2 separate regions of the Homo sapiens genome follow, and region 2 is linked to region 1. The links come from fine-mapping of genetic effects on gene expression. A gene starts in region 1. The other region holds a variant in brackets. All regions are shown on one strand. Distances are between the middles of the regions.

Region 1 (5,398 bases):
CAGTAGTATTTCTATATGTCAAGAGTATAGAATATGTAAAAGAGATCAAGAAAGTAACTCCATTTGCAGTAGCCACAAATACAATTAAATTTCTAGGAATTAACCAAAGAAGTGAAAGTTCTCTACAATGAAAACTATAAACACTGACAAAAGAAATTAAAGAGGACAAAAACATTGAAAGATATTCCATGTTCATGGAATGGAAGAATAAATATTGTTAAAATCCCCATACCACCCAAAGCAATCTATAGATTGAATGCAATCCCTGTCAAAATGCCAATGATATTTTTCACAGATATAGAAAAAACAACCTTAAAATTTATATGGAATCACAAAGGATCTAGCATAGCCAAAGCTATCCTGAGCAAAAATAACAAAACTGGAGGAATCACATTACCTTACTTTAAATTACACTACAGAGCTATAGTAACCAAAACAGCATGACACTGGCATGAAAACAGACACATAGACCAATGGAACAGAATACAGAACCCAGAAATAAAACCACACACCTACAGTGAGCTCATTTTTAACAAGGTGCCAAGACATACATTGGGGAAAAGACAGTCTCTTCAATAAATGGTGCTGGGAAAACAAAATACCTATATGCACAAGAATGAAACTACACCTCTATCTCTCACTGTATACAAAAATTAAATCAAAATGACTTAAAGACTTAAATATAAAATCTCAAACTATGTAACTACTAAAAAAAAAAAACCTTGGGGAAACTCTTCAGGACATTGTACTGGGCAAAGATTCCTTGAGTAATACTCCACAAGCACAGGCAACCAAAGCAAATGCGGACAAATGGGATCACATCAAGTTAAAAAGCTTCTGCACAGCAAAGGAAACCATCAACAAAGTGAAGAGACAATTTTCAGAATGGGAGAAAATATTTGCAACTATTGATAAGACAATGGATTAATAACCAGAATATATAAGGAACTGAAATAACTCTAAGAAAATATCTAATAATACAATTAAACAATGGTCAAAATATCTGAAAAGACATTTCTCAAATAAAGACATATAAATGGCAAATAGATGTATGAAGAGGTGCTCCGCATCAATGATCATCAGAGAAATGCAAATAAAAACTACAGTGAGATATTGCCTCACCCCAATTAAAATAGCTTGTATCCAAAATATAGTCAATAACAAATGCTGGCAAGGATATGGAGAAAAAGGAACCTTTGTACACTGTTGGTGGAAATGTATATTAGTATGACTACTATGGAGTACAGTTTGGAGGTTTCTCAAAAAACTAAAAATAGAACTACCATAGAATCCAGCAGTCCCACTACTAGGTATATACTCAAAAGAAAGGAAATTAGTATATCAAAGATATAAGATGTATCTGCACTCCCATTTATTGCAGCAGTATTCCAATACCCAAGATTTGGAAGCAATGTAACTGTCTATCAACAGATAAGTGGATAAAGAAAATGTGGTACATATACACAATGAAGTACTATTCAGACGCAAAAAAAAAAAAGACTGTTATTTCTGTCATTTTTAACAACATGGATGGAACTGGATGTCATTATGTTAAGTGAAATAAGCCAGACACAGAAAGACAAACTTTGCCTGTTCTCACTTATTTGTGGAGGCTAAAAATGAAAACAATTGAATTTATGTAGATAGAAAGTAGAAGGATGATTATGAGAGGCTGGGAAGGGTTTTGGGTAGGGGTGAAGCATAAAGGATGATTAACGTGTACAAAAAATAGAATAAATATGATCTAGTATTTGATAAAACAACAGGATGACTACAGTTAGCAATAATCTATTGTACATTTAAAAATAACTAAAAGAGCATAATTGGGTTGTTTGTAACACGAATAAAGTATAAATATTTGAGGTAATGAATATGCCACTTATTCTGATGTGATTACTATGCATTGTATGCCTGTATCAAAATATCTCATGTGCCCCATAAATATATACACATGCTACGTACCCACAAAAATTTAAAAGGAAACAAAACAGAAAAAGACAAATCACAGACTATTTTGAATTGATTTCTGTGTTTGGTGTGAGATAAAGGTCCAATTTCTATCTTTTGCATGTGAATGGCCACCTTTCCCAACACCATTTGCTGAAGGGACTATCCTTTTCCCATAGTGCCATCTTGACATCCTTGTTGAAGGATGTCAACAATGATGACATCTTGACATCCTTGTTGAAGGATGTCATGCTTGTTAATCATATATATGTAGATTTATTTGTGGCCATTCTAATCTGTTACACTGGTCTATATGTCTGTAATGCCAGTCCCATATACAAATTTTTAATCACTATAACTTCGTAATACGTTTTGAAGTCACAAAGTGTGAGGCTTTTTTTTTTTGTTATTTTTTCTCAATTTTACTTTGGTTAGTTCGGCTCTCTTATGGTTCCATATGAGGTTAAGGATGCTTTTTTATTTGTGCAACAAATGCCACTGAGATTTTGATAGGGATTCCATTGAACCTATAGATCTCTTTGGGCAATATGGGCATTTTTACAATCTTGTCTTTTAATCTATGAACATGGGATGTCTTTCCATTTATTTGTGTCTTCTTTAATTTCTTTCAGTAATGTTTTATAGTTTTTCAGTGTAGAAGACTTTCACTTCTTTGGTTAAGTTTATTCCTAAGTATTTTATATTTATTGATGCTATTGTAAGTATTGTAAGTATTGTAAGGATTGTTTTCTTAATTTTCTTTTTGGATATTTCATTGTTAGTGTATAGCCACATAAGTAATTTTTGTGATAATTTTGGATCCTGCAATGTTGCTGAATTTATTAGTTCTAACAGGTTTTTTTTTGTGGAATCTTGAGAATTTTTTGTGTACCCATGTAATCTACTAATAGAGATCATTTTACATCTTCCTTTCTGACTTGAATGCCTTTTATTTCTTTGTCTTGCTTATTTGCTCTAGCTAGGACTTCAAGAACTATGTTAAATAGAAGTGACAAGATTGGGCATTCTTGCCTTGTTCCTGATTTGAGAGGAAAATTTTTCAGTTTTTAACTGTTGAGCAAGATGTTAGCTATGGGCTTGTCATATATGGCTCTGAGATAGCAAGATAAAAACTAGTCCTCTCAGATAGGCTGCCAAAAGCCAGAAATTTGGTTGCTGGTTTTATTTCTTTTCCTCTCCAGGAGGAAGCAAGGAGTTAGAGGTTTTCTTCTACTCTTTATTTACTGAGCCAGAGGAAGCGACCATGGCCAGTGAAGGGTCCAAATTTTTGCCTTTGTTCTCAGCAGCTCTCAACTTGGCACCCCTTCCTGTCAGTGTTCTTCTAGTCAGGACATAAACCAGTCCCTTGGGCAGCTCCTGAAAAAGTCTCAACATTGGACATATGTTTCAGTCTTCTCTTTCCATTCCAAGGGAGAAACTGAGATCTGGGAGTTTTCTCTCAATTGCATTGCACTGAGGAAGAGGGCCTATGGTAAGTGTTTGCCATGAATCTTCCTACTGGCATTGGTGCAGCTGGGTTTGTGTTTGCCTGGGATGCTGGAACCTTTTAGTTGGTTTCTGGATTTCTCACAAAGGGAAATGGTCTGTATTGTTGTTGAATTGCTTTCTCCTTAGAGGAAAGAGAGGCTAGGGCTCCCTATTCAATCATCTTGCTGATGTCCATTTAATTCCTCCAAAGATGTTTGTCTTGTAGCCCACTAAATTCCTATTCTAAGACTGCCAATTATTTTCTGTGTTTACCAAACGCTGTCATTCTAGAGTCTGTTTTCTTTAGCTTCCAGGGTGAATTTCCTCGCTTCTTATATTGCACAATTTGTCTTTCTTAGTTTCTGTTTCTGTTTTCTGATTCATTATCACGAATGATATCATTAAGAACCATCCTCAGAAAAGGAACATGAGAGGTAAATTCAAGATTTGAAAGCCTTAAAATATTTTATTTTGTTTTTACTCCTGATTAGTATCGGGCAGGGTTTAGAATTTTATATTCTGAATTTTGAAGTCTTTTTTTATTGTGTGATATCAACAAATGGTGCTGATAAGTCAAATTATAGATGGAAAATAATTCTAAAGGAAGTTTTAGATTTATCTATTTGTTGTACTGAAATTTCATGTCTCTAGAAGTACTTCTTTTTACATCTATTTTCTTATTTTCCTATGGACCTTCTCTTTAGCTTTGGGGCATCGACATTAAGTTATAGGTTAGTTATGAGTTGATTACTCGTGACTGTATGAAAAATAAAATTTTAAGCAGAATATGCTTTCTAAAATATTTGTCTATAATCTGCCAAACATCCTTTTTGTTATTCAATATTGGTAATCCAGAATAGATTCATATATGTTCTATCACGTATAAGCAAACATAAACTAAATACAAGAAATACTCTTGGAAATAAATAAAATAACCTAAGTGTCCTTTGATAAAATAATTCAAGATTAAATCGTTGTAGTCTATTATTCAATAATACTAAATTTACCATTCAGAAAAGGGAACAAAATTGCTCAGAAAAAAATTGAGCTCTTTGCCATCCTTATACGCAAAGAAGAGGTTTATGGTTCTTTAGTCCTCGTAAGAAACATATGAAATTGTATTTTTAATTTCCTAACAGGGAGCCATTGGTTAACTTATTTTTAGCTTGCAATTAGTAGAAGAAAATATCTCATATAGCAAATATTACAGTGTAATCTGATTTTACCTCTTGCAGAGTTTAGTAAACAAATAAACCCCACAACAATGACAACACAACATAAAAAAGTTTGGCTTTAAGCAAAAATACATCTATATTATTATCCTACAACATGGTATTCAAAACTTACATAATTTTGCTTCCATTTTTTCCAAAGATGCTAGATTATATGCTTTTACCATGCCTCAGCCATTTGGAAATAGACAGATAGTGCATAAAGATAAACTCAGTGTTAATTCAAGAAGGAAAACAGGAATCTACTGAAATAATGAAAAGCATCCAAGATCTCAGAGAGAATGCTGGCAAAAATCCCAATGATGGCATCTGCCTGACAAAAGTAAGTGAAGCCTCAGTAAGTGAGAGATGCAGAGAGCTGCCCTATATGACTCACCTTTCCACTAGGGATCTGAGCAACCCAAGGGAGAGCACTTTGTTTCTCTCAAACCCTGAAACTAACTTGAGGAGAGGCTTGGAGATGCCATGAGGGAAAGACAGTGGGAAAAGCTTCAGACATTTTCCTAGACCTGGGATTGAGAGGAGGACAACATTTTTAATCTGGTTGCATGATCTGGTCAGCCATTCTTTGGTAACCTGGCAGCATGGTCACACAGACATTTGAGTCTCAGGCCAGACATTGGAGTGCCTGCTCTGGGGCCGGGTTGTGGCCTCCACAGCCAGAACTGTGGAAAGCACCTCAACAGTAGGCGCTGGAATTGTGCTCTTCCTTGTGACAAGTCTAGGGTGGG
Region 2 (5,398 bases), 22 kb before region 1:
ATTCACATTAATTCTTTAAATTCAGACTCAGGCAAAAGCGGCTAATATTGCCTTCCATGTAATTAGTTATTAAGGCATGATAGAGTGCATCAAAAATACCAATCTGAAAATTATCAATGTAATTAAAATGGTATGGATGTAGGGTATAAGTAATTTTATTTTAAAATGGTGAGTTTTGAAATTTTTAAAGGAAATATTCTCTGAAACTTTAGAAAGTATTACTAAGTATAGTTCTAAGTGTTCTTTTCTTTGTGCCACGAACTATAAATTTCAATTTAAAAATTTTTAAAAATTTAATATATATGGTATTTATATACAATAGAATTGTAGTCAGTAATAAAAAGGAATAAAATATTTACACATACATATAACATAGATGAATCTTAAAATAATTATGCTGAATGAAAGAAGCCAGGTTAATAAAAAGAGTACTTATTGTGTGATTCTATAGATGTAAAATTCTATAGAATGTAAATTAATATATATTGACAGCAGATCAGTGATTGTCTTGAAGAAGGAGAAACTACAAAGGGACACAAGAAAACTTATAAATAATTGTTTTATTTATTATATTGATTTTGGTGATTGCTTCCTGGAATATTCAAATATTAAAATTCATCAAATTGTACAGCTTAAATATGTATGTTTAGTGTTTGTCAATCATGCCTCAATAAAGGTGTTACAAAGAAAAAATACAAAAGAAGGAATTCCATTAGTAAACACAATGGTATCGCTGATATAAGACTAAATCTCTTGCTGTAATAATTTCTATCAGAGTTGGATAAAATATATAAAACAAGTGTTTGCAGGTACTGAGAAACATCATTGGGAGAAGGTCAGCATACACACTAAGCTTCACATTCACCCCACTTGTCTCCTTGAGGGAATTGCCAAAATATGACCAAAGAAATAGAATACAGCAGCTTTACTGAGTGGATGATACACATACTGGATTTTGGGGCTGCTAAAGCAGTTGTAATTTTAAGGGCAGAATACGGAGAGGATGAAGCCAAACTATGCAAAAAGTTTCTCCTTGCATCATTGGTAACTCTTAAACTGCACATACCAAAGATGAGACCCATGTGAGACCTAGGAGCAATGTTTGCTATGAAGTTGAGAGCTAAGCAGAGACTTCAGAAATCACATGTTTTGGAGAGACATTGAAGATCAGCTCCAGCGAGTATAGAGACCTTGATGAAGAGCCTAAACATTGAGGTGAGATCCCAGAAAGGTCATTCCCTATGATTAAGGGCTACACAGTAGGAGTAAGGGAAATAGAACCACTATTTCAAATCCCCAAACCAAACTTTGACAGCATCAATGTGATCTACTAGTAATTGATCTACCACCCAGAATAAAAATAAACACTCTTTAGTGGAAAATAACATAATCCAGAATTCTAACATGTAACATTAACAATGCCTAGCACACAATTTAAAAAGGATCAAGTGAATAGTCTATAACTGCTAAATACATCTGACATTGAGATGTTTTTGAAAAGGATTAAAAGCATAATAGAGGAGAAGACAGAATTAATGGTCAAGGACAGATACAGAAAATACCTAAAAAAAAAAAAAACACACATATAACTGAATGTAAAAATGAGGTAAAACTTAGGTAAAAGGTCTAACATATGTGTACGCTTACTTTCAAGAGGTGAAAAGAAAAGAAATGGAACAGAAACAATATTTGGCAAAATAACTGCCCCCACTGCATCCCCGCAATTTCCAATTCTGATGAAGGCATTAACTCATAAAATGCTCTGCAAATCCTAATCGTCATAAGTAAATATCAAATTAAATTACTAAAAAATAAAACTTAAGTAAAAATATTTAAAATGACCATAGAACAGAGTCATATTTTCTTTAGAGGAAAAAAAAACTAGAAAGAAATAATTTTCTTAACAGAACCTTTGGGAGCCAGAAGATGATGGAATTGCCTCTTTGAAATGCTGAAGAACCAAAAGGAAAGCAAAACAAAACCAGAAACCTTAACTTAAATTTCAATATGTAGTGAAAAAATTCTTTACAAATAAAAGCAAAATAAAGATTCCCTCAGACAAAAACTGAGGAAATGAAATATTAGCAAATTTGCACTAGAAAATCTACTGAAGAAAGTTCTTCAGTTGAGTAAAATGATTCCAGAGAACAGAATCTACGTGAAAAAAAAATAATAGCACCAGAAAGGGTAGATATGTGGAAAAATATATAAGATTTCTTACTGTCTAAAGCAATGGTAACCACAATCTCTAAGGGACCTAAAAAGTATGAAAGTAAAATACATGGCAATAGCCTAAGTGTTTAAAAAAAAAAAAAAGGTATGTTTAAAAAACAAAGGTAAATAGATCTAAACAACAATTTAGTAAGATTCTTTCTTAGAAATATGATAAAAATATAAATTTATAGAAGTTTTTTAAATAAAGTAAGGAAACATTAGCAATTTCTAAAGAAACAATAAAAATACAATAATAAGACAAAAGACATAAAAAAGCTAATTTAAGAAATAAAATGGCTTTGGGAGGCTGAGGCGGGTGGATCACGTGGTCAGGAGTTCAAGACTAGACTGGCCAATATGGTGAAACCCCATCTCTACTAAAAACACAAAAATTAGCCAGGCATGGTGGCATGCCTGTAATACCAGCTACTCAGGAGGCTGAGGTAGGAGAATCACTTGAATCTGAAAGGCAGAGGTTGCAGTGAGCTGAGATTGCACCACTGCACTCCAGCCTGGGCAACAGAGTGAGACACCATCTCAAAAAAAAGAAAAAAAAAGAAAAAACAAATAAAAATGGAATACAAATAAATCACTGATTTTAAAAGGAAAGAAATAAAGAAGAACAAATAATAGATGGTATAAATTAAAACAAAATTATTAAGATAGTAGACTAAAATTCAACTATATCAATAATTGCATCAAACATATTGATGGAATATGTCAATAAAAAGACAAAGATTGCCACATTAGCCTTTTTTTTAAAAAAAGATCCATCTATATGCCATTTACAAAGCATGCTCTTTTTTTTTCCTTCAACTTTTAAGTTCAGGGGTACATGTGCAGGATGAGTGGGTTTATTACATAGGTAAATATGTGCCATGGTGGTTTGCTGTACAGATCATCCCATCACCTCTGTATTAAACCCAGCATCCATTAGCTATTCTTCCTGAGGCTCTACCTCCCCCAGCTTCCACAAGCTCCAGTGTGTTATTTACCCTCAATTGTCCATGTGTTCCCATCATTCAGCTCCTACTTATAAGTGAGAACATGTGGTGTTTTGTTTTCTGTTCCTGTGTTAGTTTGCTGAGGATAATGGCTTCCAATTCCATCCATGTCCCTGAAAAGAACATGATCTCATTCCTTTTTATA[G/A]CTGCATAGTGTTCCATAATGTAGATATACCACGTTTTCTTATCCATTCTATCACTGATGGGCATTTAGGTTGATTCCGTATCTTTGCTATTGTGGATACTACTGCAATGAATATATGCATGCATGTATCTTTATTATAAAATAATTTATATTTTGGGGGGTATACACTCAGCAATGGGATTGCTGCGTCAAATGGTATCTCTGCCTCTAGGTCTTTGAGGAATTACCACACTGTCTTTTACAATAGTTGAACTAATTTACACTCCCACCAACAGTTTAAAAACATTTCTTTTGCTCTACAAGTACTCCAGCATCTGTCATTTTTTAAGTTTTTAATAATAGCCATTCTGACTGGTGTGAGATGGTACCTCATTGTGGTTCTGATTTGCATTTCTCTAATGATCAGTGATGTTGAGGCTTTTTCCATATGTTTGTTAGCCACATTTGTGTCTTCTTTTGAGAGGTGTCTGTTCATGTCTTTCGCTTAGTTTTTAATGGGGTTGGTTTATTTTCTTGTAAATTTGCTTAAGTTCCTTGTAGATTCTGGATATTAGACCTTTGTCAGATAGATAGATTGTAAAAATTTTCTCCCATTCTGAAGGTTGTCTGCAAAACATACTCTCTAAATATAAATACAGACAGTTTGAAACATAACTGATGGAAAAGTTGTGCCATAAATACATTATTCAAAAGAAAGCTAGTGTGAATATATTATCAGTCAACATAGACTTTAAAGCAAAACATATTAAGAGAAATAAAGATATTTTATAATTATAAAATATTTTATAATTATAAAACATTTGAATCAATAGGAATATTTAACAATTTTAAATTTGCAGGCACTTGAAAACTGCTTTAAAATATGTAAACCAAAAGTTAAGATTTAAAATGATAGACAATCCAAAATCTTAGTTGAAGAATTTAACACACCTCTCTTAATAACTGATAGAATAGGCAAACAAAAAAAGAGCAATAAGGATGTCAAAGTTTTGAATAATACCATTAACCAACTTGATCTAATTGGCATATTCGAATATGCCAATTAATTACAGAATATACATGTTTTTCAAGTACATTTGAAACATTTATCAAAATGGATCATAGAGCACTTATGCAAGGCTTATACATTTCAAAGGCTTGATATAGTGCATTTTTTTTTTCTGCCACAGTGCAGATTAATTAGAACTTAAATTATAGGAAAAAACTTGGAAAATTCATATTATGGGACAGCAAATATTTCAAAAGCAAAATAGAGTTCAGGACAAATGGAACAACATCTTCACAGTGCTGCTAATGAAAAGCTGTCAAACTAGAATTCTGTAATTTATACTCATTCAAGAATGAATAAATAAAATAAAAACATTTTTGCCGAGAAAAATATCAGGATTTTCAAAGGACATATGTTAAGAGTTATAAAAATTCCCCTTGAAGGAAGAATTTTATGCCAAATTTAAAAAAAAATCATGAACATTCTTCTAGCCTTCCACATAGGAAAGGGGAAATACACAACTCCAGCCCACTCCAGCCATCCTGCTCCACCTAAGTGGCAAACAAAGCAGCAATAGAAAACAAAAAAACCTGAGAAATAACAGTGAAGTTTACAGACCAGGGGCACAGGCTCACCAAAAGATGGAGAATTAATCATAAGATAGACTGATAAGATTCATGCCAGAGTCAGATATGGCAGGAATGTTGGAATTATCAGGCCAGAAATTTTTTTTTACACTATGACTAATGTGCTAAGGGAGTTACTGGAAAAAGTAGATAGCCTATGCAACAACAGAATGAAAGCAGAAGATAGAAATTCTAAGAAAAAAAAAAAGAAGTGCTAGAGATTAAAAAAAATGTAATTGAACTGAAAAATGCTTTTGATGGGCTCATTAGTAGACTGGACACACCTGAGGAAAGAGTCTTTATGCTTGATGATATGATAACGGAAACTTCCAAAACTGAAAGGCAAAGAGAAAGAAGAATAGAAACAGAAGTACAGAATATCCAAGAACTATGGAACATGTACAAAAAGTGTAATGCATAT

Direction of the effects. Positions count from the first base shown, and alleles are read on the strand shown. Sizes are in standard deviations (SD) of each study's normalised expression.
With allele G in place of A in region 2, the expression in amygdala of the gene that starts at base 3,180 in region 1 is lower (large effect, 1.0 SD a copy in GTEx).

The links. PIP is the estimated chance that this variant, and not a neighbour inherited with it, causes the effect. A credible set is the group of variants that fine-mapping cannot tell apart.
Region 2: its variant is the best candidate, but not a certain one, in a credible set for the expression of LINC03084 in amygdala (GTEx, PIP 0.75).

The regions. Positions count from the first base shown.
Region 1 is chr8:105,186,577-105,191,974 of GRCh38, reverse strand. LINC03084 (long intergenic non-protein coding RNA 3084) reads left to right here and starts at 3,180. Exons shown (of 3, transcript NR_187537.1): 1 at 3,180-3,439.
Region 2 is chr8:105,208,444-105,213,841 of GRCh38, reverse strand. No RefSeq gene overlaps it. Among named protein-coding and RNA genes, the nearest start is that of LINC03084, 22 kb to the right of the region's middle. RefSeq lists a silencer at 4,907-5,201. The variant G/A (reference allele first, on the strand shown) is at 3,364.